7 linked regions of the Homo sapiens genome follow. The main gene of each other region encodes a partner of the protein of the gene in region 6 in a complex. Each region holds a gene or a part of one and is shown on either strand. Other genes may lie near its edges.

Evidence for each region.
Region 1: MED20 (region 6) and MED19 share a complex: the UniProt entries of both Homo sapiens proteins name them as parts of the mediator complex.
Region 2: MED20 (region 6) and MED25 share a complex: the UniProt entries of both Homo sapiens proteins name them as parts of the mediator complex.
Region 3: MED20 (region 6) and MED4 share a complex: the UniProt entries of both Homo sapiens proteins name them as parts of the mediator complex.
Region 4: MED20 (region 6) and MED12 share a complex: the UniProt entries of both Homo sapiens proteins name them as parts of the mediator complex.
Region 5: MED20 (region 6) and MED16 share a complex: the UniProt entries of both Homo sapiens proteins name them as parts of the mediator complex.
Region 7: MED20 (region 6) and MED21 share a complex: the UniProt entries of both Homo sapiens proteins name them as parts of the mediator complex.

What each region holds. Positions count from the first base shown.
Region 1 is NC_000011.10:57,705,447-57,709,529, forward strand, and holds part of MED19 (mediator of RNA polymerase II transcription subunit 19), read right to left. Parts: intron 1-4,083. UniProt on the Homo sapiens protein: Component of the Mediator complex, a coactivator involved in the regulated transcription of nearly all RNA polymerase II-dependent genes.
Region 2 is NC_000019.10:49,823,984-49,828,563, reverse strand, and holds part of MED25 (mediator of RNA polymerase II transcription subunit 25), read right to left. Parts: intron 116-4,580; coding exon 17-115; intron 1-16. UniProt on the Homo sapiens protein: Component of the Mediator complex, a coactivator involved in the regulated transcription of nearly all RNA polymerase II-dependent genes.
Region 3 is NC_000013.11:48,087,901-48,092,480, forward strand, and holds part of MED4 (mediator of RNA polymerase II transcription subunit 4), read right to left. Parts: intron 2,519-4,580; coding exon 2,452-2,518; intron 1-2,451. UniProt on the Homo sapiens protein: Component of the Mediator complex, a coactivator involved in the regulated transcription of nearly all RNA polymerase II-dependent genes.
Region 4 is NC_000023.11:71,131,855-71,136,301, reverse strand, and holds part of MED12 (mediator of RNA polymerase II transcription subunit 12), read right to left. Parts: intron 4,230-4,447; coding exon 4,096-4,229; intron 3,926-4,095; coding exon 3,764-3,925; intron 3,458-3,763; coding exon 3,346-3,457; intron 3,180-3,345; coding exon 3,090-3,179; intron 1,946-3,089; coding exon 1,836-1,945; intron 1,590-1,835; coding exon 1,454-1,589; intron 1,211-1,453; coding exon 1,049-1,210; intron 22-1,048; coding exon 1-21. UniProt on the Homo sapiens protein: Component of the Mediator complex, a coactivator involved in the regulated transcription of nearly all RNA polymerase II-dependent genes.
Region 5 is NC_000019.10:875,451-880,030, forward strand, and holds part of MED16 (mediator of RNA polymerase II transcription subunit 16), read right to left. Parts: coding exon 4,487-4,580; intron 1,731-4,486; coding exon 1,524-1,730; intron 5-1,523; coding exon 1-4. UniProt on the Homo sapiens protein: Component of the Mediator complex, a coactivator involved in the regulated transcription of nearly all RNA polymerase II-dependent genes.
Region 6 is NC_000006.12:41,904,546-41,908,768, reverse strand, and holds the end of MED20 (mediator of RNA polymerase II transcription subunit 20), read left to right. Parts: exon of another isoform or gene 1-10; intron 11-1,481; coding exon 1,482-1,697; 3' UTR 1,698-3,415; downstream 3,416-4,223. UniProt on the Homo sapiens protein: Component of the Mediator complex, a coactivator involved in the regulated transcription of nearly all RNA polymerase II-dependent genes.
Region 7 is NC_000012.12:27,025,290-27,029,177, reverse strand, and holds part of MED21 (mediator of RNA polymerase II transcription subunit 21), read right to left. Parts: intron 2,759-3,888; coding exon 2,644-2,758; intron 1,832-2,643; coding exon 1,731-1,831; intron 894-1,730; coding exon 717-893; 3' UTR 1-716. UniProt on the Homo sapiens protein: Component of the Mediator complex, a coactivator involved in the regulated transcription of nearly all RNA polymerase II-dependent genes.

The sequences.
Region 1 (4,083 bases), on a different chromosome or scaffold from region 6:
CGAGACCATCCTGGCTAACAACACGGTGAAACTCCGTCTCTAGTAAAAATACAAAAAATTAGCCAGGCGTGGTAGCACGTGCCTGTAGTCCCAACTACTCAGGAGGCTGGGGCAGGACAATCACTTGAACCCGGGAGGTGGAGGTTGCAGTGAGCTGAGATTGCGCCACTGCACTCCAGCCTGGACAACAGCGAGACTCTGTCTCAAAAAAAAAAAAAAAAACAGCAAAAGTAAATAACATGAAAAGTATAATACAACACAATGGTAGGTTCCAATGGGAAGGGGAAAAACAGGCAAAAATCCAATAGGGCAGAGACAGGAACTGCTCTAGCCCAATGAAGGAGACACTCCACTCTCTTAAGATTAACTGGAGTTGATTTATATGATGCTTGCTTCGTGGTAAATGCTGTTCTGAGTGTTTCTCATAAAATGTATTAGTGAAAAATTATATTCTCTGACACAGCTAGGAAAATACGACCTTGCAGCTCAGCTACAACCATGCTCAGGGGGCCAAATATGACCCAGTGACTTAAGGGTCTTGTCAAGGACTTTTTTTTTTTTTTACTAGCAAGAAACACTAATCACCTTTACATAAGAAAAGAACTGGGAGATTTTTTTCTAGCTACCACTGCCTAACTTGTTACCAACATCTTTATTCTTCCTCGTGATACTGAGTATGATGCCTTGCCTAAAAGGAATAAATGTTTTTTGTTTTTGAGACGGGAGTTTTGCTCTGTCGCCTAGGCTGGAGTGCAGTGGGGTACGATCTTGGCTCACTGCAACCTCCGCCTCCTAGGTTCAAGTGATTCTCCCACCTCAGCCTCCCAAGTAGCTGGGATCACAGGCACACACCACCATGCCTGGCTAATTTTTTTCTAGTAGAGAAGGGGGTTCACCATGTTGAGTAGGCTGGTCTTGAACTTCTGACCTCAAGTGATCCGCCACCCCCCGCCGCCTCGGTTTTCCAAAGTGCCGGGATTACAGGTGTGAGCCACAGCACGCATCCAGGAAGAAATGTTTGATTAGAAGTCAGTCAACTAATGGCCAGGCGCGGTGGCTCACGCCTGTAATCCCAGCACTTCAGGAGGCCAAGGCGGGCAGCTCATTTGAGGTCAGGAGTTCAAGACCAGCCTGGCCAACATGGTGAAACCCTGTCTCTACTAAAAATACAAAAATTAGCTGGACAGTAGTGGCACACACCTGTAATCCCTGCGAGGCGGAGGTTGCAGTGAGCTGAGATCAGGCCACTGCACTCCAGTTTGGGTGAGAGAGTGAGACCCTGTCTCAAAAAAAACAAAACAAAACAAAACAACAAAAACAAAAAAACAAGTCAGGCAACTAGAATTATTCTGGCTGTCTTCCATGCCTCAGTTTCCTCTTATCTGTGGAATGGAATAATAGCTATCTTACATACACATAATTTTCTCCCAAGGTTCAAATGAAAATATGCTGAAAAGCATAAAGTATCAGGCTTGGCACAGTGGTTCATGCCTGTAATCCCAGCACTTTGGGAGGCCAAGGCAGGCAGATCACCTGAGGTCAGGAGTTTGAGACCAGCCTGGCCAATATGGTGAAACCCCATCTCTACTAAAAATACAAAAATTAGCTGGGTGTGGTGGCATGCGCCTGTAGTCACAGCTACTTGGGAGGCTGAGGCAGAAGAACTGCTTGAACCCGGGAGGTGGAAGTTGCAGTGAGCTGAGTTTGCACCACTGCACTCCAGCCTGGGTGGGAGAGTCAGATTCCATCTCAAAAAAAAAAAAAAAAAAGTATTATATGTATGCAAGGCACTATCCATATAAATATTGCATGGCTGATTCTTTTTTAAAAAATATACATTTATTAGTAACTTAATAAGGACCTACTAGCAAGGGTAGAAATAGCTAACTACAACTTCATTTGTAATTATGATAGACACAGAGGGTACAAATGACAAAAATGGCTTGTTTATAATCATTCACTTGGGAAAACTGAGGTACTGAACTGTAAGCTCCTTGGAGGCACAGACAATGTCTTGTTCATTCATGTATCGCTAGTGCCCAGCACAGTACACACATTAGGTGCTTAATAAATATTTATTAAATAAACAAGGCACTTTCCCTCTATACCTCTAGGCCTTATTCATCCTTTTCCTTCCCTTTACTACCAAACAACTCAGAAGACTGAGCGAGGGTAATGGCAGGAGACCCAATGTCACAGTATCTCTCCTCATAACTCTGGGCACTGCCTCTTGCCATTACAATCTTCTGAATTTCCCCTGCTCTGCCAACTCTCCTCTGTCCAGATGGTTATCCTTAAGGCTCAGGTGAGAAGGCAGTCTGTGCTTTTTCTAAACTGTAACTTGAGAGTTCAAATTCCAGTTTTGACTATTCTACAAAGATTACTTTTTATATTTATTTATTTTTTGAGACAGTCTCGCTCTGTCACCCAGGCTGGAGTGTAATGGCACAATCTTAGCTCACTGCAATCTCTGCATCCTGGGCTCAAACTACTTTCCTGCCTCAGCCTCCCAGGTAGCTGGGACTACATGCATACACTGCCATGCTAGGCTAATTTTTGTATTTTTTGTAGAGACAGGGGTCTCCCTATGTTGCCCAGGCTGGTCTTGAACTCCTGGACTCAAGCTATCTGCCTGCCTCAGCCTCCCAAAGTGCTAGGATTACAGGCGTGAACCACCCTGCCCAACAAGATAAAAAAAAAAAAAATTGTTTTGAAATTCCAAATCTTGCCAACATCACTCAGGGCTTCTCTATTTCAATCCATGGCACCCACATGTTCCAGATATTTTTGGAAATCAGTACTCCTCAGTTCACAAATCTTAATGGTTTCTTTTTGCCCTCAGGAGAAAGCTCAAATTCCTTTGACTGGCACTCAAGGCTAATTACATCTTACTCCAACTTAGCTTTGGGGCCTCATCAACCACTACTCTCCTATGCAAAATTTCTGATCCATCCAAATGGATCTCCTTATCGCCTCAAAAAAACACCCCTCACATTATTTCATCTTAGGAAAATTCTTCCTAATTTTTCTTCACCAATATGGATTATTCAAGGTCTAGCTCAAGTGACATCTTATTCTCACTGTCATTCTGGATAGCAACACACTTTGAAAACCATTAGGTAGTTCTTAATATTGATGGCTAAGATATTGTTAATTGCTGTTGTGAGGCATGAGCACAAAATGAGATGGAGGTGACAGGAAATATAGTCACTATCCTTAAACCACAAATTTTACATTCCTAACTAAACTCCTTGAAAAGCAATGACCAGCATTACTAATCTCTCTCTCCATCTCACCCGCCTCATACACCCAGCATTTGCCCAGAACATATATTCAATATCTGTCAACTGACTGATACAAATAGCTACAATCAGAATAGGGAAGGCAAAAGAAAGATTAAAAGAAACCGCTGGTGGACATCAACCACTAACTAATCAAAGGGATGTCAACTTCTCCATGTTTCAGTTTTTTCAATTATAAAATGTAGACAGTAATGCTACCTCAAAGGGCTATTCTAAGTATTAAATACTACTTATATTAAATACTGCATGTAAGTGTGTTGTGAACTTCAAAGTACTATACCAATATTTGTTGCTATTTCCCTCAAGTCATGATGTGGAAATAAGACTTGAGACAATGAAAGGCATCTGGGAGGCTGGGCGCAGTGGCTCACGCCTGTAATCCTGGCACTCTGGGAGGCCAAGGTGGGCGGATCACCTGAGGTTGGGAGTTTGAGATCTGCCTGACCAACAGGGAGAAACCCTGTCTCCACTAAAAATAAAAAATTAGCTGGGTGTGGTGGCACATGCCTGTAATCCGAACTACTCGGGAGGCTGAGGCAGGAGAATCGCTTGAACCTGGGAGGCGGAGGTTGTGGTGAGCTGAGATTGTGCCATTGCACTCCAGCCTGGGCAACAAGAGCAAAACTCTGTTTAAAAAAAAAAAAAAAAGAGGCATCTTGGAGACCAAACATGTCCAAAATAACTCTTGATTTCCACCTCTTCAAACTTGTTCCTTCCTCATCTTCCAAGTCTCCGTACCCATACACCCAATTATTCAAGCCGAAAACTTAAAAAGGCATCA
Region 2 (4,580 bases), on a different chromosome or scaffold from region 6:
TGGAGGGGGCACTCACATCTGCTCGCGCATCTTCTTGAAGTCATCAAACAGCTGCAAGGCTGTGCTGAGTCCTTCCGCGATGAGGCTGCAGCTCTCACCACCCCCGCCCATGAACCTGCAGGGGCAGAGCGGTCAGCCCCCAGGGTTGCCATCATCCCCATCCCCAGGCTATGCTTGAAGAGCCTGCTCCCATGCTGTCCCCCACTCTATCCTGGGCTATGCACCTTGGGATGACGGGGACCCTGCTGAGTTCCCTACCCAATCCCTGGTGCTAGCACAGCACCAGTCCCAGACAGGACAGGGGACATTTGCTGTCTGTGTTTTTTTTTTTTTTTGAGATGGAGTCTCGCTCTGTCGCCCAGGCTGGAATGCAGTGGCATGATCTCAGTTCACTGCAAGCTCCGCTTCCTGGGTTCATGCCATTCTCCTGCCTCAGTCTCCCGAGTAGCTGGGACTACAGGTGCCTGCCACCACACCTGGCTAATTTTTTGTATTTTTAGTAGAGACGGGATTTCACCATGTTAGCCAGGATGGTCTCCATCTCCTGACCTCATGATCCACTTGCCTCAGCCTCCCAAAGTGCTGGGATTGCAGGAGTGAGCCACCACACCCGGCCGACATTTGTTGTCTTTAATCATGAGGACTGGGAGGGAATGGGAAAGGGCTGGGGACCCCAAGCCTAGGATCCTGTGCTGACTCCAACCCTGGAGTGACTGACTCCATGCCCAGCCTCCTGCTGTCCCCTCCCCTCTCTGGGCTGTCTGCTCCAAATCAGTCCTGGCCCCACTTCACCTTCCCAGCCAGAGACGGGGGCCTCCTCTGTCCTCCTAGTCTTATGGGTTCAAGTGTGCCCCCTTCAAAAAGACAGGTTGAGGTCCTAAGCCCCAGTACCTCAGAAGGTGACCTAATTTGGAAAGATCTTTACACAGGTAATCGAGTTAAATTGCGGGCCCTAATCCACTATGGCTGGTGTCTGTGAAAAGGAGAAACGTGGACACGGACACACACACAGAGGGAAGACACAAGGACACAGAGAGACACAGGGAGAGGCCATGTGAGGACGGGTGATGCAGCCTCAGCAGGCACCAGGAAAGGCAGAAGGGCCCTTCCCCTGTAAGATTTCAGAGACAGCCTGGCCCTACCACCTGGATTTTGGACTTCCAGCCTCCAGAACCCTGAGACATCAATTTCCATTCTTCTGGCCAGTTTCTCATACTTTGCTACGGCAGCCTGGGAAACTAACACACACAGACTCTCGTTTCTCCTCCGCCTGATCTGCAGTCGCGTCGCAGCATCCGTCCCACATGGGTTGTGGCCCGGGGATGGCCTCTCCTCAAGGGCAGCTGTGGTTGCCACCATTATTCCGGTCACGTGGTCGTGAGAGGCTGACCTTTGCTGCAGGGGACGTGTGTGGAGACCGAGCACCCCTCTGAGGGTCTTGAGGGCCCTGTCCCCCTGAAGTGTGGTCTCTGATCCTACCTCTCCCACAGGCGGGGATGGGGTCTGAGTCCTCTCTTACCCCCAGGCTTGCCCACCACAGCGGGGCACATGTGAGGCCTCAGGAAATGTAGGCTAAGTGAATGAACGTCTACAGGCCCAACCGTGTCCATCAAGACTGGAACCAACCCAGGCCCTCGGCCCGGCATCGGCCCAGCATCCGAGGCCTCCGAGTCCTGCACCCCGTCCATCTCTCCTGCTCCATGCCCGCACCTATAGGTCCTCTCAACTGACAAAGCCCAGACATCCAGGTCTCTGCATGTGCTGGAACACACCCATTCCGGCCCGGATGGAATCCAGCTAAACTACGACACCCATCCTGGTGTGCCCTCCTATAGGAAGCCTTCCCTACATGCCACCTAATTTTACGGCCTGCCCTTAGTCACATCATAGATCACCCGATACTGCAGCTGTCAAGCTTCTCTCCGCACCCTGTGCAGCCCTCCAAGAGAGACACCAAGGCGTCTGACCCTAGGTCACACAAGGCCTAGGAACCATCTGCTGAGTACTCAGTGCACTGGTGGCCTGGCAGGGCCATGCAGCGGGGCTCTCCGCTTCCTGCCTGAGTTCTCGCACTGATTTCCTTCCAGTCCCACTCGGCCCGGCCAGTGAGCACACTGAGCCCCTGAGCCTTCTTCCTGCTCTCAGGGCACTCGGGCGCTGCTCCCAACCCACCACACACTTCCCAGCCCTCCTCTTCCTAGCCATCAAAACAGCTTTTGTTTTTGAGACGGAGTCTCGCTCTGTCTCCCAGGCTGGAGGGCAGAGGCACATCTCCGCTCACTGCAAGCTCCGCCTCCCGGATTCACGCCATTCTCCTGCCTCAGCCTCCCTCGTAGCTGGGACCACAGGTGCCCGCCACCACGCCCGGCTAATTTTTTTAATTTTTAAGTAGAGACGGGGTTTCACGGTGTTATCCGGGATGGTCTCGAACTCCTGACCTTATGATCCACCCGCCTCGGCCTCCCAAAGTGCTGGGATTACAGGCGTGAGCCACTGTGCCCGGCATCAAGACAGCTTTGCACGCAGAAACTTCAACTGTGTGCAAAGAGTTGGGGTGAACCAACTCTGGACCCAGCTGTTCTGCTACAGGTGAAATTAAGCCAATATTTTCCTGGGCCTTTCTGGGACTCGAGCCAAAACCACCCTGGCTGGGGATGGGGGGATGGGGGAATGGGGAGCTAGTGCTTCATGCATATGGGGTGTCCTCTTTGGGGTGATAAATTTTTTTTTTTGAGATGGAGTTTCGCTCTTGTTGCCCAGGCTGGAGTGCAATGGCACGATCTCAGCTCACCACTACCTTCGACTTCTGGGTTCAAGTGATTCTCCTGCCTCAGCCTCCCGAGTAGCTGGGATTACAGGCATGCGGCACCACGCCCAGCTAATTTTGTATTTTTAGTAGAGACAGGGTTTCTCCATGTTGGTCGGGCTGGTCTCGAACTCCCGACCTCAGGTGATCCGCCTCCTCACCCTCCCAAAGTGCTGGAATTACAGGCATGACCCTGTAAAACAGTTGGAAGTGACTGGGTGCAATGGCTTATGCCTGTAATCCCAGCACTTTGGGAGGCCGAGGTGGGCGGATCACTTGAGGTCAGGAGTTCAAGACCAACCTGGCCAAAGTGAAACCCTATCTCTACTAAAAATACAAAAACCAGCCAGACATGGTGGTGGGTACGTGTAATCCCAGCTACTCGGGAGGCTGAGGCAGGAGAATCACTTGAACCTCGGGGGCAGAGGTTGTAGTGAGCTGAGATCATGCCACTGCACTCCAGCCTGGGAGAGAGAGAGAGACTCCATCTCAAACAAAACAAAACAAAACAAAACCCTTATGAGGAAAAGTGTGATAAACTAACCAGTTTGAGATGCTAAAACTTGCGTTTCTCTTATTGAACACTAAGTACAAGTCATGTGCTACAAGCTCAAAGGGCGACATGTAATAAACATTTTGTCAAAGAAATGTGGAAAACTTGAACAGAAGAAGCACTATGGCTGGCTGCAAAATATGGCTAAAATATCAAGTTTATGATAAATTCCAAATAAACCCCTTGATATGGCAGACACAAAATAAAAATAAAAGCCCCCTAGGTGACACAAGTGGGCTCTGACTTGGTGTTCCCAAGTCCTCTAACTTACTCCCATTTGTTCTACCCAGTATCATTCCCCGGGGTCTCTGCTGCCCGCTTTCATCGGCTAACAGGTGCCTGGAGCCCCAGGAGGTCAAAATGAGTGAATGTTAACAGCATCCGGCCATGACCAAGGGCTCCCTACACACGGCCTGTCACCCAGGCAAACTAGTTCCATGAGGGCCAGGACCTTGCCTATCTCATGCCCACTAACTCCTTGGTGCCCAGGACGATTTGTTCCACAAACATTTGTTGAATTAATGAGTGAACATATGAATGAACAACTGAGTTGTCATAATGTTATGGGAAACACACTGGGTCTATTTTCCTTCCACCTCTTTTTTTTTTTTTTTTTTCCCGAGACAGGGTCTCGCTCTTTCACCCAGGCTGGAGTGCGGTGGCACAATCTCGGCTCACTGCAACCTCTGCCTCCCAGTCTCAGTTGATCCTCCTACCTCAGCCTCCTGAGTAGCTGGGACTACAGGTGTGCACCACCATGCCTGGTTAATTTTTTCTATTTATTTGTTGTTTTTGTATTACATACTAATTCATTTATTCAGCCAGTCTCCTGAAGCCCCGTGGGTGCCAAGCCCCAGCTGGAAGCAAATGGCAGAAGCACCCAGGGACCTGGACATTCACAGTCCAGAGGTGTGGGGCTGTGACAGGTCATGGAGGCAGAGGAGGAAGCATCTGGCTGCAAGAATCGGGAAGGTTTCCCAGGGTATAAGACACCTGAGCTGGGTCTGGAAGGCTATGCAGTGTCTTCCAGGGTGGTTAGTATTAAATGCATTCTGGACATTCATTCTACAGAATTTACCCGAGGCCTCCTGTGTACCAGGCCCTGTGCTGGCTGCCAGGCACTTGAGGAGCATCAGACTTGGACCTGGGCCTCAAGAAGTCTCCATTTAACATCACTCAAGACTGTCTTACCGGTCTCTCCCAGTGGTCTCAAATGGAATA
Region 3 (4,580 bases), on a different chromosome or scaffold from region 6:
GTATGCAGATACGGCAAAAACCATGAAGGCTAAAACACATAAAATAGAAAGTCTGGTGGTTCATATCTCTAGTCCTCCATCTGCTAGCTGTGTGACACAGGGAAAGTTACCAGCCTCTCTGAGCCTGTGTTCTTAATAGGAAAAGGAATATAATATTAATAGTAGCCATTACATGAAGCTATTGTGAGGATTCATGATATATTGCACTTTAAGTACATACAGGAAGAGTTCAGCAAAGGCTAGTTATTACGATCACTACCCCAGTACAGAATTAAGATGCAAGTCTAGTCTAAATATCCTTTACTGTGCTAAGTAGAGAATACTACTTCAGAAAGAAAATATCTATCAAAATTCAGAATCAATTTTAAAACTATTTAAAAAGATTTGTTGAAGACTAAAAAGTACAGGTATGCCTCTTCAAGATCCTTTTGACATGAAGTTCTTCTCATTTTATAGGAATTCTTCTAATACAATAGACAAAAGACTGAGCTACAAACTGCCAAATATTAAGAGTATTTTAAATAACAACAGAAAGCTTTTTCTGTAAAAAGTAAAGTATATTCTATTTATTTAACAGACTTCTAATCCTCATTCCTCCCACATCGTAGGAGAAAGCTAGGTTTCCATTTCTATAAAAGCTGTATTATTAAAGCAAGTAGTACACAGTAGTTCCCTGACAACTTTCAAGAAGTTTACACAGGTTGAATTAATTTGTATACTACCCATGAGTAAAAAATATTCTCTTTAGATCTTATTGTTCAGTAGAAAAAAATTATTCAACTAAAGTCAGAAGACCTAGGTTCTGGTTCCACTCACCATTAACCTCTACCTCATCCGTCCACCCTGGAGCTTATTCTCACAGGAGGTTGAACTGAACATCGTTAAGATCCTTTCTAATTCTAAAATTCTATATAAAATTATAAATATCCAAATAAAATGGTGGCTAGAAAATTTTCAAATGGGCACATCCCTCTCTAATAGTAACAGTTTCAATGAAAATTACATAGGAATCCACAGTACTAAGACACAATTCACAAATTGCTACTCTTTAAAAAGTGCAAGAAAGATCAGTGCTGATTATAGGTCTTAATTATCACCTTCTGAATAATCTGTGTGCCTGGCTCATAGCAAGCATTTAATAAGTGTCTATCAAATAAAGTCAAGCCTTGCATTTTACTTCTTGCATACTTTGTATAAATTCCTATTTAATCCCACGGGTATTAACAGAGTACCTGAGAGACTAGTAGTCTTCTATTAACATATTTATCTCTAGCCTCTTTCTTTTTTGAAAAAAAACAAAACAAAAACCTTACTACCCCTAAGGTTAGCTGTTTCTCCTAGCTTGTGGCCTCATCTGGATCCCCTCCTCCCCTTTTGAGGCTCACTGACACTTTTCTATTGAGTCCGTCAGATTTCCCTGCCCTCAAAACGTAAGACAGAACTAAGGTAATGATGCAGACAAAAGATTTATTACTGTCTCCTCTTCTCCTTTACATCATCTTTAGAAAGGTTAATCCTCTCCATTCATTTTCTCTTAAACATTTTTTTTGGCCAGCTATGGTGGCTCATGCCTATAGTCCCAGCACTTTGGTAGGCCAAGGTGGGGAGGATCCCTTGAGGACAGGAGTTCAAGACAGTTCAAGACTGACCTGGGCTACACAGTGAGACTATGTCTCTACCAAAAAAAAAAATTTCTTTTAAATTAGCAAGGCATTATAGCGCATGCCTATAGTCCCAGATACTGGTGAGGATAAGTGGGAGATCGCTTCAGTCCAGCAGGTTGAGGCTGCAGTGAGCAGTCATCATGCCACTGCACTCTAGCCTGGGCTACAGAGCGAGAACTTGTCTCAAAAAAGAAAAAACTGTGCCAAAAACATAATATAAAATTTATCCTCTTACCTCTAAAAAAATTCTGAATCAGGAAAAAAAGTCTGTTCACCCACCATGGAAAATTAGAAAGCACCGAAAAGTGAGCAAATAAAAACTGCCCGTACTTTCACCCCTATAAGGCAATGTCTAATAAGAGTTGTATGCTCTTTTATTTCCCTGCATGTTCAAGTTGCATTAGGGAACTATACTTACAATACACGGTAAGTTTTTGAGCATTAACTTTTGATTCTAAATATTGTTGTAATCTCCATACAACAAGCCTTTCTTGGTTAATTCAAAGGACAAAAATAAATAAACATGTAAGTGTGACTAGAATTGTAAGAGAAAATAACAAAATACTGCTAAACCCTCAGGCAACTATTCTTCTTAAGCGCACTGTTATCTTAAGTAAATGATACAAAGAAAATACCAATATTAAAGTTTTAATTAATAACTTAAAAGGATCCAACATTCCTGTTCCCACACAAAGTAAATATAAAGAGGAAACTTGCAGAAATCAAGTTTTTTTCTTTTAATTAAAAAACAAAGAGAAATTAACTAATTTAAAAAGAAGCCACTTACCTGGTTTTCCTCTCCAGCCTGTAACAACTTTTGGTTTCTTGAAATTGCCAGCATTTCTATAAGTTCCCTAAAAAAAAAAAACCAACAACAACAAAAACCCTTTCACAGCATACTGAACACTCAGGGCTACTCCCTACAGTCCGCTATTGACTGTGAACTACAGCTCACCAAGACTCGCTTGTGCCGGTTACCAAACTTATTTATAAAAGTTCTACTTAATACTATCATTATATAAATAGCTATCACCTAAATGCCAATGAAAGACTATTGTGAATAGAGAGAGTTCTTTCTATAAAAACCTAAGCCTAATGCTTGGAAAGACTCTACAGAGGCTTGCAAAGGACAGCTATAAAGAAAGGACCAGGGAAAAGTCATAAAAACTAAGGGTCTGCCCTAAGACTGCTTGATAAGAGGATAAGTTCTCATTTTGATTTGATCTAGAAATCAAACTACAAATTGCAGACAATGCATTATGAGCGATTTATGCAAGAAAAACTCATACATCAGGGGTCTACAGGCCAAATCCAGCACTTCTGCAGTTTTTGTAAATAACATTTTCCTAAGACAGTCTGCCCATTAATATACAAATTGTCTATGGCAGTTTTCCCTAAATACAGAGGCAGAGTTGAGTTGTTACAGCAGAGACTATATGGCCCATAAACCCAAAAGTATTTATTATCTGGCCTTTGCAGAAAAAGTTTTCTGACTCCTGTCTTACATAACATGATTAGTGAATGAACATATGTTTATATATTTTAAGGTAAAATAAAACAATTAAGGGATGCATGGACCATTTTTTAATGATTCTCCACTTTATTTGAATTTTTTAAATTAAACATCAACTAAGAGGGATCCTTACACATAATAAAATGATATCCTTTTAGAATGCTCATTTAATAAATATGACAATTTCCCTGTATGAAAATTAGTATCTGATGAGCAAAATAAGATTGGGAAAAATGTATAGCAGGTAATGTTTATATATTAGTTTCAAACTTGTTGATAGATGGGACTTTTGAGAAATTATGCAGAAGGGGCAGCTTCACAACTAGCTACCTGACACTGCTCTGATCAGCCTGAGCATTTGTACTTTCTCACTGGCTACCAGGCTATTTTTACCTTCAAATTTCCACCTTCCTTCCAGCTAGCATCATATCATTTTTCTGGATCATGTCAATTAGACCCAACCCTTCCCACTACTACTTCCCCATACCATTATTTATGAATTAATCAATGAATGAAAAAAGTAGATATAAGAATGCAAAGTCTTCATTTATTCACTAATTCATCAAATATTTATTGAGTGCCTATCATGTGCCAGGCACTTTCTAGATACTTGGGGTATCAAAGTGAACAATGGCACTTAAATTCTAATACAAGAGACAAGAAGAACTAAGAGAAGAAATAAACCTAGAGTGATAAGGGTTGGGAAGGAAATAAAGCAATGTTTTATTAGAGACTACTGGGGGAGTGGGTTGGCTACTTCAATAGGGTGGTCAGAGAAGGTCTTCCTAAGGGCACAGCTTTGACATAAGACACGGATTAAATGAGAGAAGTCAGCCAAGATGTCTGGAAGGAAAGAGCACAGTAGAAGACACAGACAGTTCAGTGCCCCAAAGATGGAGCTGAGGAGGTGTAGCCAGGGCCTGGCACAATGGGGAGAGGAAAGCAAAGTGAGGATGTAGCAGCCAGGTGGCTAGGGGTGAGATTACGTAGGGCCTTATAGTTATGGTAAAGATTAGTGTTTCATTCTTTTTTTATTTTTTATTTTTTGAGATGGAGTTTTGCTCTTGTTGCCCAGGCTGGAGTGCAATGGCGCGATCTCGGCTCACCCCAACCTCCACCTCCCGGGTTCAAAGAATTCTCCTGCCTCAGCCTCCCTAGCAGCTGGGATTACAGGCATGTGCCACCACGCCCGGCTAATTTTGTATTTTTTTTTTAGTACAGATGGGGTTTCTCCCTGTTGGTCAGGCTGGTCTCGAAATCCCGACCACAGGTGATCCGCCGGCCTCGGCCTCCCAAAGTGCTGGGATTACAGGCATGAGCCACTGCGCCCGGCCTAGTGTTTCATTCTAAATGCAATGAGAAGCCACTGGGTTATTTTAAACAGGGAAATGGCATGACCTGAT
Region 4 (4,447 bases), on a different chromosome or scaffold from region 6:
TTTGGTGGAAACCTGTAGACCCTGCTCCAGAAAATGAAAAACAATAAGCTGTTGGGACTTAGAAAACAGAAGACTGCAAGCATTTGTAGGAATGGGTAGAAAGAAAGTCATAGGCAGATTCAGGAGAGATGGTAAGAAGCAGACAGACAGACATGGATACACATATACATGCGGAAGAGAGTTATGCGGGGAGAGAGTGAAGGGTGGGGCACAGGGAGAGGTGTGGAGGCACAAGATGAAGCCAGCCCAGACCAGGAGAGGAGATGAACTAACGGGGCGGGGGGCGTGTGGGGAGAGAAGATCGGGAGAGAAAGGGGTTGGGGAGAAAGCCAGAGAGGGAGCGGGGAGGGAGAGGGATTGACATTCAGAGGAAGACAGAAAAAGGAAGGCAGAGAAAGAGAGAGAGGAAGGCAGGGAGAGACTCTGCCTTTAGGCAGGCCGAGAAAGAGTCAGAGAGAGAAAGAAACAGGAAGAGAGAGACAAAAAGGTGGAGAGACAAAGAAAGGCAAACGAGTCAGACAGGGAGAGAGACAGAGACGGAGGAAAAGAGACAGATGGACTAGGAAGACAGATGAAGAGAATGTATATATGAAGGAGTTAGACTTTGGGTTTTAAACTATACACAATAATTATGGTTACTCAACAAATACCGCAACTGACAGAGAGGGAAAAGATAAAAGTGTGCAGAGATGGGTGGGTGTAGGGAAACACAGAAATAAAAGAGATACAGGCTGTCGGCCAGATAGATGGGTGGGGTAGGACATGGGGCAGGTGGAGCAGAGGAAAGAGGAGGGTAGGGTATTGAAAAATGGGTGGTATGTTAAAAGGTGAGGGCAGGGTGAAGGAAAGAGGGTGGGACTTCAAAGATGGAGATGAAATGTAAGGAAAGTTAAGTGATTTGCTCAAAACCCCAGAGATGGTGTTCACCGGCAGAGACTGATGGGCTCCTGAATCTGATGAGTCTGTTGGAGCTACAAAGCTGATGCAGGCAAAGTTCTTGCCCAAAGGGGAAAAAAGGCAAGGGACACGGGCAGACAATGGAACATGCCTCCTTCTTGAAGATGGAATCGAAGCCAGCAATCTTGTTGCCCTTGGTATCGATAAGGGAGCCCTGTGGCTCACACGTGATGACATCTCGGGTCTGCTTGGGCAGTGGCAGCAGCTGGCGAACCTTTTCCAGACTGTCTGACTGGCGCTCCCCCAACTCCTTCTGCAGGCACAGGAAGATGGGACAAGAGTTCAGAGATACAGAAAACAGGGATGGGAAGTCTCAGGGGACAGCACAGAACCTGGCACAGAGAAGACCCCCACTCAGTAAATGCTCACGGCATGAGTAACAAAGAAAAGGCAGACGTGAGAAGGAAAGGTAGAGGGCTCCAGCCAGAAGCAAGTTCCTGAGGCTGGACAGCAGATTCCAGTAACCGCAAACCTTGCCCCCGCTTCCTCTGCTTACCTGCAACTTCTTCGCCAGGTTCATGTATGCACGCTTGTTTTCCTCCATGCTACCTTGCGAGATGCTAGACATGTCTGCAGCCAATGTCCCATTGATGAGCACGCTCAGCATGTCCAACACAGTAGTGAAGAGCTCACTGAGACAGGAAGCCAGAGAGAAAACCAAAGAAGAAAGAGGTGAAGATAGAAAAAGGCCTCAGCAGAGGACACAAGCAGGGAGAGGTGCTTAATATGTCATCCCAAGGGCACCAAAACTGTATGGGGAGCCCAGGGCCACGGAGTCCACAGTAACAGCCACACCAATCTCAGTGGGTGCACCTGGCATGGGAGTAGGGGGAGCTTCTTGGGTATGAAACTGCAGGGAGCGGGTGGGGATGCTTTACTTGTTGGACTGCATGTCGACAGTGCCGCTGATGATGATCTCCAGGAGGAGCATGGCCCACTCCGTGGTCTGCTGGGTGCTGCGCTGCACCGTGTCAAACATGCCCCCCACCTGCCAGGGCCACAACAAGTCAGTCAGATGGCTCAGGGACAAAGGCCAGAGTTTCAGGAAAGCTTAGTTCCAATCTGAGTTGGGACGCCTGAGTTCATGCTTGAGTTTTTTTTTTTTTTTTTTTTTGAGACGGAGTCTCGCTCTGTCACCCAGGCTAGAGTGCAGTGGCGCGACCTCGGCTTACTGCAAACTCCGCCTCCCGGGTTCACGCCATTCTCCTGCCTCAGCCTCCCGAGTAGCTGGGACTACAGGCGCCTGCCACCACGCCCAGCTAATTTTTTTTGTATTTTTAGTAGAGACGGGGTTTCATCGTGTTAACCAGGATGGTCTCGATCTCCTGACCTCGTGATCCGCCCACCTCGGCCTCCCAAAGTGCTGGGATTACAGGCGTGAGCCACCGCGCCCGGCCATGCTTGAGTTGAGCCTATGATTTGCTACATGATCTCAAGACAATGACGGAATTCTTGACGTCTCTAGGCCTCTGTTTCCATACTTAGAAAGTGATGGGAATTGGACAGAATGATTTCCAGGATTCCATTCAACATTCCACAGTGGGTTTCCAGTGCTTCTAGGGCCCAGTCAGAATCTAGGATACTGAGGCAGAGGCCCTGCAAGGATCCAGGGTACATAACCTATTGGACCATGACCACAGTGATCCAGCCCCCTTAACCACTTTCAGTCCCTGCATACTTTCAGAGAACAAGGTTAATACTTCAAGACTCAGGCTGGGCACGGTGGCTCATGCCTGTAATCCCAGCACTTTGGGAGGCCGAGACAGACGGATCATTTGAGGTAAGGAGTTCAAGACCAGCCTGACCAGCATGGTCAAACCCCATCTCTATGAAAAATACAAAAATTAGCCAGGTGTGGTGGTACACACCTGTAATCCCAGCTACTCAGGAGGTTGAGGCACGAGAATCACTTGAACCCAGGAGGTGGAGGTTGCAGTGAGCTGAGATGGCGCCACTGCACTCCAGCTTGGGTGACAGAGTGAGACTCTGACTCCAAAAAAAAAAAAAACCCTTCAAGACTCAGAATAACCTGGGGCCTCTATCCTTACCCCCATTCTCCCCAACCTGAGGCTTTTGCACTCCGCATTTCCAGCCCTACCCTCTTCCTTCTTCTCCCCAGCTGGCCTTCTCACCAGGTTGAGCCGCAGTTTGAGTGCCTCATGCATAAGCTGCTTTGGTTTGCAATCATCTAAGTACTGGTCATCTCGCCAATTATTCACAATCTAGAATAGAAACAAATAAAATATGCAGCTCAGGGATCTTCGTGTTTCCATCCCACAGCAGCCAATATGTTTATCAGAAAGTACTGAAGTTTCCAAGTACAGAGTAACCCCTTAGGTGCATCCTTCCCTGACCTCCTGCCCACCTCCATGGCCCAGAGATCTGTACCTGGTGCACCTGGCTGTAGAGGGAGGTAAGGAGTCCCTCGCGTTGTTCATCCTGCCCTTTCAGACATGTTAGCACCAGCGATAAGAAGGGCTGCTGGCTCAATAGGGACATGCTAGAGACAAGAGAAAGAAGAGAAGAGAAGAGAAGAGAAGAGAAGAGAAGAGAAGAGAAGAGAAGAGAAGAGAAGAGGAGAGAAGAGGAGAGGAGAAAAGGGAGACTGTGGGTTGGGAGTCAACTTCCAACCTCATTCTCCAGACTACTCTCTTAAGATCTAGCCTCTTGCTCAGCCATGCCCACTCTTATCCTCTGATTTTCCACTTTCCTATGATGCTTCTCCTTGGCCCATTTTATTCTTCCCCGGGCCTGCCTCTTCTCCTTTCTACCCCTCAATCTTGGTCCACTCCCTAAGCCCCTTTACCTCTTCTGCTTTTGTCGATCACGTTCTTTGCGTGAAGAGGAACCCAGGTGCTGACCCTTCTCCAATTCTTCCCCAGCAGCCTTTAACACATGTCCCTGGACTGAGGTGGGCAGTTTAGCAATGAGGGGGGCCACCAGCCATACACCAGAGCGCTCTAGAGAGCTGGAGAACAGACAGAGGACACAGGGTCACAGGGGAGCCAGGCAAGGCTGGAACAATCTATCCTCTCCTTTCCCTGATGGACATGCTGGCATCTCCACGCATCTGATATCACTCACGCTACCAGCAGATAAACTCCTAAGGGGATGGGTCCTAACATGTTTCTATCCGACCTGAGCACAGGCTTGGTCTTGCTGCTGCTGGGCATGTTGCTTGCAGTACTTCCAGAAGATGACCCTGTCTCTGCTGACTGTTGGAAAACCTCGATTGTGGCCTTGGCGATGTTCTCCAAGAGGGAGTTCATCTCCTGGGGAGGATGAAAGGCACAGAAGTGCTAAAATAGGTAGCTAAGGGTGAAGGAAAGCAGATGGTAGGAGAGATCGGAGATGACGGAGAAGGACAACACTGGCGGAGATTGATGGGGAGATAGGAACGCAACTCTGTTGGGAATCATGCCCTCTAGTACCTCCATATTTCTCCAATTCCTCACTGTCTTCTCCTTTACATACCTCCTTACATCTATGG
Region 5 (4,580 bases), on a different chromosome or scaffold from region 6:
GGACCTGAGGGCAGGAAGCCAGGTCACCCCAAGGGGCCGGAGCAGAGGCGCCCGCCAAGGCTCCAGCTGAGGAGAAGAGCAGTTCGACTCTGACACCAGGCGCTCGGTCAGCTGGGCAAGCTGCTTCGCCTCTGCACCTCAGCAACCTCATGGCAAAACAGGTGCGGAAGACCAGGCGCACAGGACCAGGTGCTGGGTTCTCAGCTGGGAGCGGCTCTGCCTCTGGTGGGGGCCCCTGGTGATGTCTGGAGATATTTTTAGTTGTCACCACTGGGGGTGCCCCTGCCAAGTAACGGGTGGAGGCTGGGGAGGCTGCTCAACAGGACACCCCCATCCCAGAGGCTGCTCCAGCCCCCGATGTCTGTGGTGCCTACGGGGAGACCCTGGTCTAGAGAGAATGAATGAATGAGCTGAAGCATTTTGGGAGGCTGAGGCTGGAGGATTCCTGGAGGCTGGGAGTTGGAGAGCCTGTGCAACGTAGGACACCCCATCTCTACAAAAAATAGAAACAACTAAAAACAAAAATGAAACGCTTGGCACACAGCGACGGCCCAAGGAGGGAGAGGGCGAGGTCTCGCCATCACTAGCGCTGTCACTGGCTACGGATCCCAGCCACGCTGGGGTTTAGCCTCGCAGCCCCCGCCTGGGTCTCACGCGTTTCTCGGCAGGCTGTGCCGTGAATGGGATTTTTTTTTTCCCATTTTATCTTCGTATTGGTTTCTGATGGCACAGAGGAAAACAAGTGAAGCTCAGAGGGCTGGTCCCACGTGCAGCTGCCGGCTGAGCTCGTTAGATCTGAGGTCCTTCGAGGACACTCTGGGATTGCAGGCACATAACCACACCACTGCAAGGGACCCTTCTGGCACGTGGGCCTCCGTATCCGCTCCCTCCTCTCCTTCCGACGGGCGGGTCTCTGTGTGTTCATCTTCTGACCGTGTTTGCTGAGGCCTCACACCACAGGGCCACCGGGTGTGCATCCTGGTACCCATCACATTCTGAGAGGATGGCTTAGAAAGATACCTCCAGACTGGGAACACTGGAGAGGGGAGCCGTCCAGGGGGGATCAGGCCTTACCTGTGGGGCTTAACGTGTTACAGAAGAAACTTCCCAGGTAAGGAAGGAAACTGCTTCTCTGAGGTGCAGCTTTCCTGGACGGGCCTCTGGGAGCACACCCCACACGCAGCCTCACCTGCCACAGGCTACCTGCCCCTCTTGCCCTCCGCCTGCCATAGAGCCCCCAACCTGCCGCAGGGAAACCCCTCCAGCTGCCACAACCCCCACATCTGCCGTGGGGACCTCTACAACTGCTGCAGAGACCTCCTCCACCCTCCAAGGGAACTCCCTCCCTGCTGCTGGCACTTTACTGACCACGGGGCCCCTGCCTGCCACAGGGACAGCCCCACCTGGCACGGGACCACCTGCCACGGGGCCCCCACCTGCCACGGGGCCCCACCTGCCACGGGGCCCCCACCTGCCACAGGGCCCCCACCTGCCACGGGGCCCCACCTGCCACGGGCCCCCACCTGCTGCAGGGCAGCGGTCTGGCGCGTGTACTCCTCGTGCAGCTTCTCCACCAGGCTCTGTACCATACTGGGCTGCACGTGCAGCAGGATGTCCCACCAGTCGTAGCCGGTCACCATGCAGTACTCCAGCAGGAAGAGCAGGTGCCGCAGCGCCAGCCCCACCTCCAGCGGGTGGCCCATGGAAGGTGAGAGGCGGAGCACGCTCAGCTGCCAGAGACAGAGCCCAAGGAGAGCCCGGTGAGATGGGGCTGCGCCCTCAGCCGGGAGAGGAATGGGGCCCTGGGGCTGCGGCACGTGTGTGGATCTGTGTGCGCGCACGCCCGTGTGTGGGCCTGTGTGCGCGCATGTGTCTGTAGCGTCTGTACCTTTCTGTCAGGGTCATGCACAATGCCTCTGGGAACAGGGAAGGAAACCTCCCTGAGCCCCGACTGCACTGGATGCCGAGCCAGGCTTACACTCGTCTGCTTTACCTGAGGAGTCTACCCCGTGAAAGGCGGTCCTCTCAACAGCTCCTAGTTACGAAGCTCCTAATACGTGCTGTGAGCCACCCCACTGACCTCGCTCAACAAGACGAACCCATCACACAGACAAGGCAGCGCAGGCAGGGGCTGGCGAGGGGCTTGCACCTGTGGTCCCTTCCCCCGGGGGCGCCTCCCTCTGGCACCCTCCCAGCCCCAGCCCCAGCCCCAGACCCACGTGCCCCAGCAGCTCGCCTTCCCCTGGTTGTCAATGCCCACCAGCCCCTGCCCCACGTGCCCCAGCAGCTCACCTTCCCCTGGTTGTCAATGCCCACCAGCCCCAGCCCCAGCCCCAGCCCCAGCCCCACGTGCCCCAGCAGCTCGCCTTCCCGTGGTTGTCAATGCCCACCAAGCCCAGCCCCACATGCCCCAGCAGCTCGCCTTCCCCTGGTTGTCAATGCCCACCAGCCCCAGCCCCACGTGCCCCAGCAGCTCACCTTCCCGTGGTTGTCAATGCCCACCAGCCCCAGCCCCAGCCCCAGCCCCACGTGCCCCAGCAGCTCACCTTTCCGTGGTTGTCAACGCCCACCAGCCCCAGCCCCAGCCCCACGTGCCCCAGCAGCTCGCCTTCCCCTGGCTGTCAATGCCCCCCAGCCCCAGCCCCAGCGCCACGTGCCCCAGCAACTCACCTTCCCCTGGTTGTCAATGCTCAGCAGCTCACCTTCCCGTGGTTGTCAATGCCCACCGAGCCCAGCCCCACGTGCCCCAGCAGCTCACCTTCCCCTGGTTGTCAATGCCCACCAGCCCCAGCCCCAGCCCCAGCCCCACGGGCCCCAGCAGCTCGCCTTCCCCTGGTTGTCAATGCCCACCAGCCCCAGCCCCACGTGCCCCAGCAGCTCACCTTCCCGTGGTTGTCAATGCCCACCAGCCCCAGCCCCAGCCCCAGCCCCACGTGCCCCAGCAGCTCACCTTTCCCTGGTTGTCAATGTCCACCAGCCCCAGCCCCGGCCCCGGCCCCGGCCCCACGTGCCCCAGCAGCTCACCTTCCCCTGGCTGTCAATGCCCACCAGCCCCAGCCCCACGTGCCCCAGCAGCTCACCTTCCCGTGGTTGTCAATGCCCACCAGCCCCAGCCCCAGCCCCACATGCCCCAGCAGCTCACCTTCCCGTGGTTGTCAACGCCCACCAGCCACAACCCCAGCCCCACGTGCCCCAGCAGCTCACCTTCCCCTGGTTGTCAATGCCCAACAGCCCCAACCCCACGTGCCCCAGCAGCTCGCCTTCCCCTGGTTGTCAATCCCCACCAGGGCCAGCCCCACGTGCCCCAGCAGCTCCCCTTCCCCTGGTTGTCAATGCCCACCAGCCCCAGCCCCACGTGCCCCAGCAGCTCCCCTTCCCCTGGTTGTCAATGCCCACCAGCCCCAGCCCCAGCCCCAGCCCCACGTGCCCCAGCAGCTCACCTTTCCCTGGTTGTCAATGTCCACCAGCCCCGGCCCCGGCCCCGGCCCCGGCCCCGGCCGCAGCTCCACGTGCCCCAGCAGCTCACCTTCCCCTGGCTATCAATGCCCACCAGCCCCAGCCCCAGCCCCACATGTCCCAGCAGCTCACCTTCCCCCGGTTGTCAATGCCCACCAGCCCCAGCCCCAGCCCCACGTGCCCCAGCAGCTCGCCTTCCCCTGGTTGTCAATACCCCCCAGCCCCAGCCCCAGCCCCAGCCCCACGTGCCCCAGCAGCTCGCCTTCCCCTGGTTGTCAATGCCCAGCAGCTCACCTTCCCATGGTTGTCAATGCCCACCAAGCCGAGCCCCACATGCCCCAGCAGCTCGCCTTCCTCTGGTTGTCAATGCCCAGCAGCTCACCTTCCCATGGTTGTCAATGCCCACCAAGCCCAGCCCCACGTGCCCCAGCAGCTCACCTTCCCCTGGTTGTCAATGCCCACCAGCCCCAGCCGCACATGCCCCAGCAGCTCACCTTTCCCTGGTTGTCAATGCCCACCAACCCCAGCCCCACGTGCCCCAGCAGCTCGCCTTCCCCTGGTTGTCAATGCCCACCAGCCCCAGCCCCACGTGCCCCAGCAGCTCGCCTTTCCCTGGTTGTCAATGCCTACCAGGGCCACGCCCCAGCAGCTCGCCTTCCCCTGGTTGTCAATGCCCAGCAGCTCACCTTCCCGTGGTTGTCAATGCCCCCCAAGCCCAGCCCCACGTGCCCCAGCAGCTCACGTTCCCCTGGTTGTCAATGCCCACCAGCCCCAGCCCCACGTGCCCCAGCAGCTCGCCTTCCCCTGGTTGTCAATGCCCAGCAGCTCGCCTTCCCCTGGTTGTCAATGCCCACCAGCCCCAGCCCCACGTGCCCCAGCAGCTCGCCTTCCCCTGGCTGTCAATCCCCACCAGGGCCAGCCCCACGTGCCCCAGCAGCTCACCTTCCCCTGGTTGTCAATGCCCAGCAGCTCGCCTTCCCCTGGTTGTCAATGCCCACCAGCCCCGGCCCCACGTGCCCCAGCAGCTCACCTTCCCGTGGCTGTCAATCCCCACCAGGGCCAGTGACGTCCACGATAGCTGCATAGCCTTTAAGTGGACGGCGGGGCCCGCGGTGCGGGGGCGC
Region 6 (4,223 bases):
AAGCGGGAAGCTGGGTTCAAAGCAAGCAGAAAGCTTCATTAGGAAGGGTGGCTTGCTGGAGAAGGGAAAAGATAGTCAAGGAAGGCAGGTGAGTTATGATATGGAGGGACAGTCACCCATGACAAGAAGTTCTGGAGCAGACCAGGACAACTCTTAGAACAATTTTCTGGCGGTGGGCCCTAAATCACATATGCCCATATACCTTTCCTTAGTATGCTTTAAGATAGGTTGGGAAGCAAAAATGTGCTTTTCCTTTTGACATGCTGTCTGCTTTCTTTCATGGTAGAAAGAGTGTTTGTGTGTGAGATCACTTCATCTGTGACACAGAGAGTGTGTGTGTGTCTGTGTATACATACACATATATAGTGACAAGGAGTGAGAGTGGCAGTGTAGCAGTGGCTGGCTTCTTTGGGACCAGGGAAAGTTCACAACCTATAATGTGCCCAGCACTGAGATAAGAAAACAAGTAAGCTTGCAGGTCTACCCTTTGAAAATTTGTGATTTATTTATTAAGAGTGAGGCTGAAACACACAAACTCTTTTTGAAGTTAGTCTGAAAATGCTATAAAAGAGGCAGTTGGCTCTGGGAATTCAGGCCAGTGTGAACACTGCTGACTTTGGTTGTGATGCTTCCTGAGGATCAACATTTATGTAGGGATTTAAAATGTAGAGACATGGGGATAGATAAGTCTAGGAAGAATCCCAGTTGGAGAAAAGGGCATTAGTGGTAGTTTCTGCTCAGCAACCTCTAGGACCAAGACTTCTAACCCTTTCGGCTTGTGATAGACCTTGGATTTGCTGAGACCCACTGAGGACCCGCTGTTTATCCTCCACATTTCTAATCTTGTAGTAGAAACACACTCCACCTGTTTCTTTACTTATTTCTCCTTAGGGTTGCCAGTAATTTTGCCCTGCCATCTCTCCAGTAAAAAATTAAGAGAGCAGAAGGAGAAAACCTAAGATGTATATTTTTTGGCCCATGACACACTATTTGGGAAATTCTTTCTTAGGGTCAGAACCCAGGTTGGTTCTACTTAGGGAGTAAAATTTGGTCTTGAAAAAAACTCATGAGCATATGTGTCCACTCTACTCTCTACTTACCACCCCCACACACATTTTCCTTCTCTTTCTCTTTGTTGTGTCTCTTAGAATTTTCTTGAGCTCTCCTTGAATCTTTACCCAGCATAGCAGGGACAACACAGTCCTGAGATCATCAAAAGGGGCCCAGATCTGCTTCTGGGTCCTCTGGGAGGGCTGCGGGTTGGCACAGCTCCAGGATGAGAAGGTCAAAGATGCCTAAAGATGCTGGGTATTGAGCCCAGTGTTTAGGTTGAATGTTTCCTGTGGACCAATACTGTGCTAGGAGGTGTGTGTCTTTAGCTCGGGGTTGGGGAAGATGGGAGCAGGAGGCAGGAGGTACAAGAGAAGCAGACCTTGTCTTAGCCTTCATTCACCCTCATTCTCTGTGCTTTTGGTTCCCAGGTGGAGTATGGCCCCTGTGTGGTAGCTAGTGACTGCTGGAGTCTGCTGCTCGAGTTCCTACAGAGTTTTCTAGGCAGCCACACACCAGGGGCTCCCGCAGTGTTTGGGAACAGACATGATGCGGTCTACGGCCCAGCAGATACCATGGTCCAGTACATGGAACTCTTCAACAAGATCCGCAAGCAGCAGCAGGTGCCGGTGGCTGGGATTCGTTAGTGATGAGCAGCTGCCAGCTGAGCTCTGTCACCAGGGGTACTCCACAGGAGGAGCAGGTGCTGACTTTCAGGTCCCTGGACCCCAGAAACCCAGGGTAGACATGGACTCTACTCTCCTTCTCTGGTTCTCAGCTGTGGCTTTTGTTCTGGGGCTGAGTCCCCTCCCCAACCCCCTGACTCTCACACATAGCCCCCCATCAGCTGTTTTACTCCGTGCCTTACTGGATTTGGCCTGTCCTCAAGAATGGTAATTATGAAGAGTGGAGAAGTTTGGACCTTGCCTCCTTTAGGGGAAAGGTAGGACAGGAATGTCCCTGCCTGGTACTGGTGGGGGAAATAGTCCGTATCCCCAACTATTAAGGATTTGTCCCAGGCCAATGGTGAACATGCTGCATTTTATGTTTGGATTGTGCTGTAATAAGAGCCTCTTCCTTCCCTCAGAGGATGTGGCTGGGCTTCTATCCTAGAGATGGAGTAGAAGGCACAACTGGTTTGATAGTTACTATTTTCTGACCTGTTTGCTGAAGTGATTTGCGAATTGACTTTCCTAGGGTGTTGCCTGAGTCCTTTGAAATCTCCTTCTGACATCTTTCCCTTCTGTTGTGAAATATGTTAAGCCACAGGCCAAACTGCTATAAGATCGAAGTTTGTTTTTTTCTCACCTAATAATAGAGAGGTAATCAGATGGTCTAGGGCAGATTTAACTCTACAAGGTTATCAGGAACTTTGTTTCCTTCTGTCTTATTCAGCCATTCCCAGTATGTTTTCTTACCCATAAGATCAAAGCAGACTCATCAGCTCCATATCTGCATTCCACTGGGGAAAGAGAGAGAGAAAAGAGCAGATTTTAAAAAAAAGATATGACTGAGCATTGCTCAGATCACTGTGGCCACACTTTGCTGAAAGAGATGCTGGGACATAGAACCTCTTATCTGGGCAGTCATGTGCTGAGTTAAAACTCAGGGATTCTGTGACTACAAGATGAAAGACAATTTGGTTGCTGAGATGCAGTTAATGGCTTCTGTTACATGGAGCTCAATGGACGTGCCCAGGAATGCTTTTGGCTGTTATTTTGCAGTTAATACCTCCTGTAACTAAAGCATTTGTTTATGAGTTGACTTGAGAGAAGGGCTGATCTCAGAGCCGCTTTGAGCTAAGTTGGATTAGTCACACTAGGAAGTTAATTCCACACCTTTCGTCTAAGTCTCAGTATTGAGGCCTCTCCAGTTCTCATGCACCCTGATCTTAGGGTTAGAATACTTGACCCTGATACCTGCACCATGCTTCATGGTTCCTGAGCTCTTTCTCCTGTTTCATTTGAGCCTCCAAACTACATATTTGGTCATATTGCCTGCCTACCCCATGCCTGCTGCAGAAATATTCATCCAGGTTAACCTTGATATACACAGAGATGGTCTTGGAGAATTGTGAATGTATGTACTGTATTGTCATCAAGGATACTGTCCCTTATTTGAAGGCATCTAAAGAGAAACTGTTTTCAGATCCAAGTGCTCAGATCTAAAGCCTCTGCAACAAGTCAGGTGGTGGTCATGTTTCCCTTCTAGTTTTGGCTGACAGGAAGCTCAGTTCAGTACCATAACTACAGAACCTGTCATCTGTATTTTTTGTTCTCACCCCGTTTTTGTTATTTTGTTTCTGGTTTTTTATATTGAGGTATGTTTTAGATATAGTTTACAAAAATAAAACGCACAGATCTTACCTTTTTGGCCTCCTGATTTACATTTGCTCTCGTCCAGGTTTATTTATTTGTATTTTTCTGTAGGCTGCAGCTTTTATGGAATGAAACAATGCATAGGCAGCATTTTGAACACAATGCATTTCCTGAAAATCTCCAGAAGTTGATCGTGGTAAATATAGACTCTCTAGACTTATGCATCATAAGGAGGGACTCTGTTCCCTAAAAGCTAAAAAGCAGTATAAAATCCCTAACTACACTTGGCTTTTATTTTGTTTTTTTATTATTATTATTACTTTTGAGATGGAGTTTTGCTCTTGTTGCCCAGGCTAGAGTGCAATGGTACAATCTTGGCTCACCACAACCTCCGCTTCCTGGGTTCAAGCGATTCTCCTGCCTCAGCCTCCCGAGTAGCTGGGATTACAGGCATGTGCAGTTAATTTTGTACTTTTAGTAGAGATGGGCTTTCTCCATGTTGGTCAGGCTGGTCTCGAACTCCTGACCTCAGGTGATCCACCTGCTTCAGCCTCCCAAAGTGCTGGGATTACAGGCGTGAGCCACCATGCCTGACCCTTATTTTATTTTATTTTTTTGCAATGGAGTTTCATTCTTGTTACCTAGGCTGGAGCGCAGCGGCGCAATCTCGGCTCACTGCGAACTCCGCTTCCCGGATTCAAGCAATTCTCATGCCTCAGCCTCCCGAATAGCTGGGATTAGAGGCGCCCACCACCACACCCGGCTAATTTTTTGTATTTTTAGTAGAGATGGGGTTTCGTCATGTTGGCCAGGCTGGTCTCAAACTCCTGACCTCACGTGATCCACCTGCCTCAG
Region 7 (3,888 bases), on a different chromosome or scaffold from region 6:
TCATTGTGATGACAAGCAAATTAAGGATGAAAAAAAGCAAGGTGAAAAGAAATAGGAAAAATAGTTCAGGATGTAGAAAAATTCTTTCACAACAGCCAGGAAATTCTCTTGACAGAGGATCTCTTGGTAAAATAAACGTGGAGATGAACTAGAACAGGTATGAGGTTCTAGCAGAAGAAACATTTGCATAAATGTGACTTTCTTATCCAGCCACACTAACTCTATTTCTTAAAAGCAACACAATTTCCAAAACTTTCTTGCTCAAAGCTCAGATTTACACAATGCCACCTCTAAGAGGCAGGACACTAGCCCAAACTAAAATGTCCCTTATGTCTGTTCTTACTGTCTTCTCCTTTGGCTTGAGAGATGTTTTGATTTGTAAAAGTACTGGCCAATACAACAAAATGGAGACATAAATTATGTCATAACAGAATTTTACATATGTTTCCTTATATTATGTTCATTAATGTATTACATGCCTTAATAATTTCACTCAGTTAAAAAATGATGGTATGATGCTTTAAAGCTGATTCAATCATGATTTTATAAGCTTATCAAGAGTGAAAATAGAAGACTATTAAAAATAGCTAAAAAGGTAATGTGTCATAGTGTTTAATGTTTCTGTAATTGTTGGTAAGGCTTGTATCTAAGTCTGATGCAGAATTCTTAATGGCACTCAAACAGTTCTTTTCTCAGCCACATGGTATCCACTGATGCTATGAGTCTGGAAGAGACTGGCTATGGGTACCACTTCTTGTCTTCAGCTGTGACTGTGCAATATCAGCAAGTGCGCTTTGTATCTTCTCCAGAAGCATGTCTCCTCGATAAACAACATCCTCCAGACATGTAGCAGCTTCATGGTTTTCTTCTTCTAGCTTATACAAGCTAGCAGCCTTTATAAGACACAAATTTTAAAATCTTTAGAGTTTAGAAAGAGAAGCTGTCACAGATGTACTTATTTTTAAATCTGGATGACTTTGCAATCATTGTGATATGTTTTTCAGTAAAGAAATTCTAAAAATCAGACAACTTTTAAGAATTTTCCCCATGTGAATTATTAAAAAGAATGACTTTTCAATTAGAGATCTCTAGATATCTTTAAGTGACTCCCTTACACATTACGTTTAGACACCATTATTCTACTCCAATTGTAGAATGCCACCCTCCTCTCATTCTTCACTAGGAAAAGAGACAAAATTGAGGAAAATAAGAGGTTTCCTTATAATGGAAATTTGAATATTATAACAAAAGGTGCTATGATTTGAATGCATCCCCTCCAAAATTCATACATTAAAATCTAATCCCCAATGTGATGGTATTAAGAGGGAAGGGGCCTTTAAGAGGATATTAAGTCATGAAGGCAGAGATCTCATAGATGGAATTAGTACCCTTAAAATATGGCTTGAGGTTGAAGAGGGAGCTCTTGCTCTTTTGCCCTTCTGCCTTCAGCCATGTGAGGAAACAGGAAGAAGGCCCTCAACATGGCCCTAAACATGGCACCATGTTTAATAAAAATTCATTACTCATGCACAGTGAGTAATAAATGCCTTGATCTTGGACTTCCCAGACTCCAGAACTGTGAGAAAATAAATTTCTGTTCTTTATAAATTACTGTCTCAGGTATGTTGTTATAGCAGCACAAATGGACACAGACAAAAGGTACTAAATCTACCTCCTTTAATTCAAAATTCTCTATTACTGGTAAAATTCTCAAAGGAATAGAGGCTTACCTGTAAAGCAGCTGTAGATTCTTCACTGGGTAAGGAATCTATCAAAACATCAATGTCTTTTGCTGTTCGTGCAATCAGTGCTGCAAAAAGCTGGGCATACTCTAGAGAAAGATACTGCTAGATTAGGATATTAGAAAACCTCAAGTTTTCAGAAACAAATTTTAAGTTAATGAAACCAGAAACTTCATATAGCTTTTTCTGCCCTAAGATTCTAATGATTCGGCCAGGCGTGGTGGCTCACGCCTGTAATCCCAGCACTTTGGGAGGCCAAGGCAGGCGGATCACGAGGTCAGGAGTTTGAGACCAGCCTGACCAACATGGTGAAACCCCATCTCTACTAAAAATACAAAAATTAGCCAGACGTGGTGGCATGAGCCTGTAATCCCAGCTACTCAGGAGGCTGAGGCAGGAGAATTCCTTGAACCCGGGAGGCGAAAGTTGCAGTGAGCCAAGATTGCATCACTGCACTCCAGCCTAGGTGACAGAGCGAGACTCCGTCTCAAAAAAAAAAAGAAGATTCTAATGATTAAAATATACACCAATCCTGTTACACATTTAGCTCAAATTGGGAATTAAGCATAATGTATGTAATTTCATTTATTATGACAATATAGTGGTCACCTGAATAAAGAAATTTATAAATGGGATGCCTTCCTTGTTAAGGTCCCTCACTCAGCTAAATTAATACAAATTCTCCTCTAAAGGAGTAACAATCTATTATCTGACATGAACCAGAATTATGAGATGTTAGGTGAATTGACTGTAAATTTTTTACAACAAACAAAACTTGTAATATTCTCAAACAACAATAATTTTAGAAATAAAATAAGCTGAATTTCTCAAGAAATCTAATTTTAAAGGATTACAAAAAATGTGAGAGTCAAACTAAGAGAAGCTAAGAAAACCTGTTTACCTTCTGTAGGGTTAGCTGGCTGGTCTTTGTTAATTGCTGTCTGAATATTATTGAAAGAGGCAGGAGGACCACATTGCTGCAATACTCCAATGGCATTACAAAACTGATCTGCAAGCTTAGGCCAAAGAAAACATATCAAGGTTAGAAAGGACTTATCAGTTTTAAGGACTTTATTGGTAATGGCAACAACAATAAGTTTCTGTAATGATAATCTCTGAGCAAGGGAATAAAACAGAAAGGAGTGATTGTTGATAAAATAAGCCAGTTATTATTAATGTTGATTAAACGTTTTAATTCTGCAAAGAAACTAAGTTTGGTATCAATCTAGGTAAAGTTAAATTTGATATAAATCTAGTTGAAACAGTTGAAATACAAAATAATCTTTCTTTTCTTGTGATAGTAAAATGATAAGAGAATATTGGCCAATACTTATTGTAAGCCACAAGTAAAGACTTTTTGGGGATAGTGATGGAAAAGAGCAAATTTGACTTGTAAATATCTATGGCACCATGTTTAATAAAAATTTATTTCTCATGCACAAAGTATATGATTCCTTTTCTGAGACTGGAGTAGTTACAAGTGTAAAGAAATAGTGAGGAAGAGGCTGCTCAGAAAAGCACCTTAAGTAAGCAGAAATGTATTTGTTCAAGACTCAATTTGTAAACTCTTGTACTCTAAAAGTATTCCTTAAGTACTTTTAAAGATTGGGAATAGCAATTCCTTACCATCTCCAAATTAAATACACCTATCTTCCCTACCAATTTCTCTCACCTAGTCTTGACCTCTCAAACCTCCTATTTCTAATAAGTATTTCCACTGGGTTTCTCTGCCATTGTTTCAATGACAGAACTCAAAGGCAACTGTTTCCTCTTTTTAATATTTAATTTGTATTGAAAGTCTCCTAGTCAACCAATCTAACTTCAGATTCTTACTTTCCTTTGATCTTCATATTCTGCTAATACTACAAATCTTTCTCTTTTCCTTCTATCACTGTTGCTTAGTTCAACCAATTATCTCACACCAGAATTATTACAATAGTCTTCTTGTTGTTTTCCAGTTCACCAGGTTATTTATTTTAACCTGATCAAAACATTTAAGCTTACTCCACCACTGTCTTCAAGATAAATCTCCAACTCAGGCTGTTTTGAAGCTTTCAATAATCTAAGTCAACTCTACTGACTCGTTTTCCACTACTCCTTCATATTTATCTAACTAGTCATAAAGTCACTTATGACTAAATGGCTT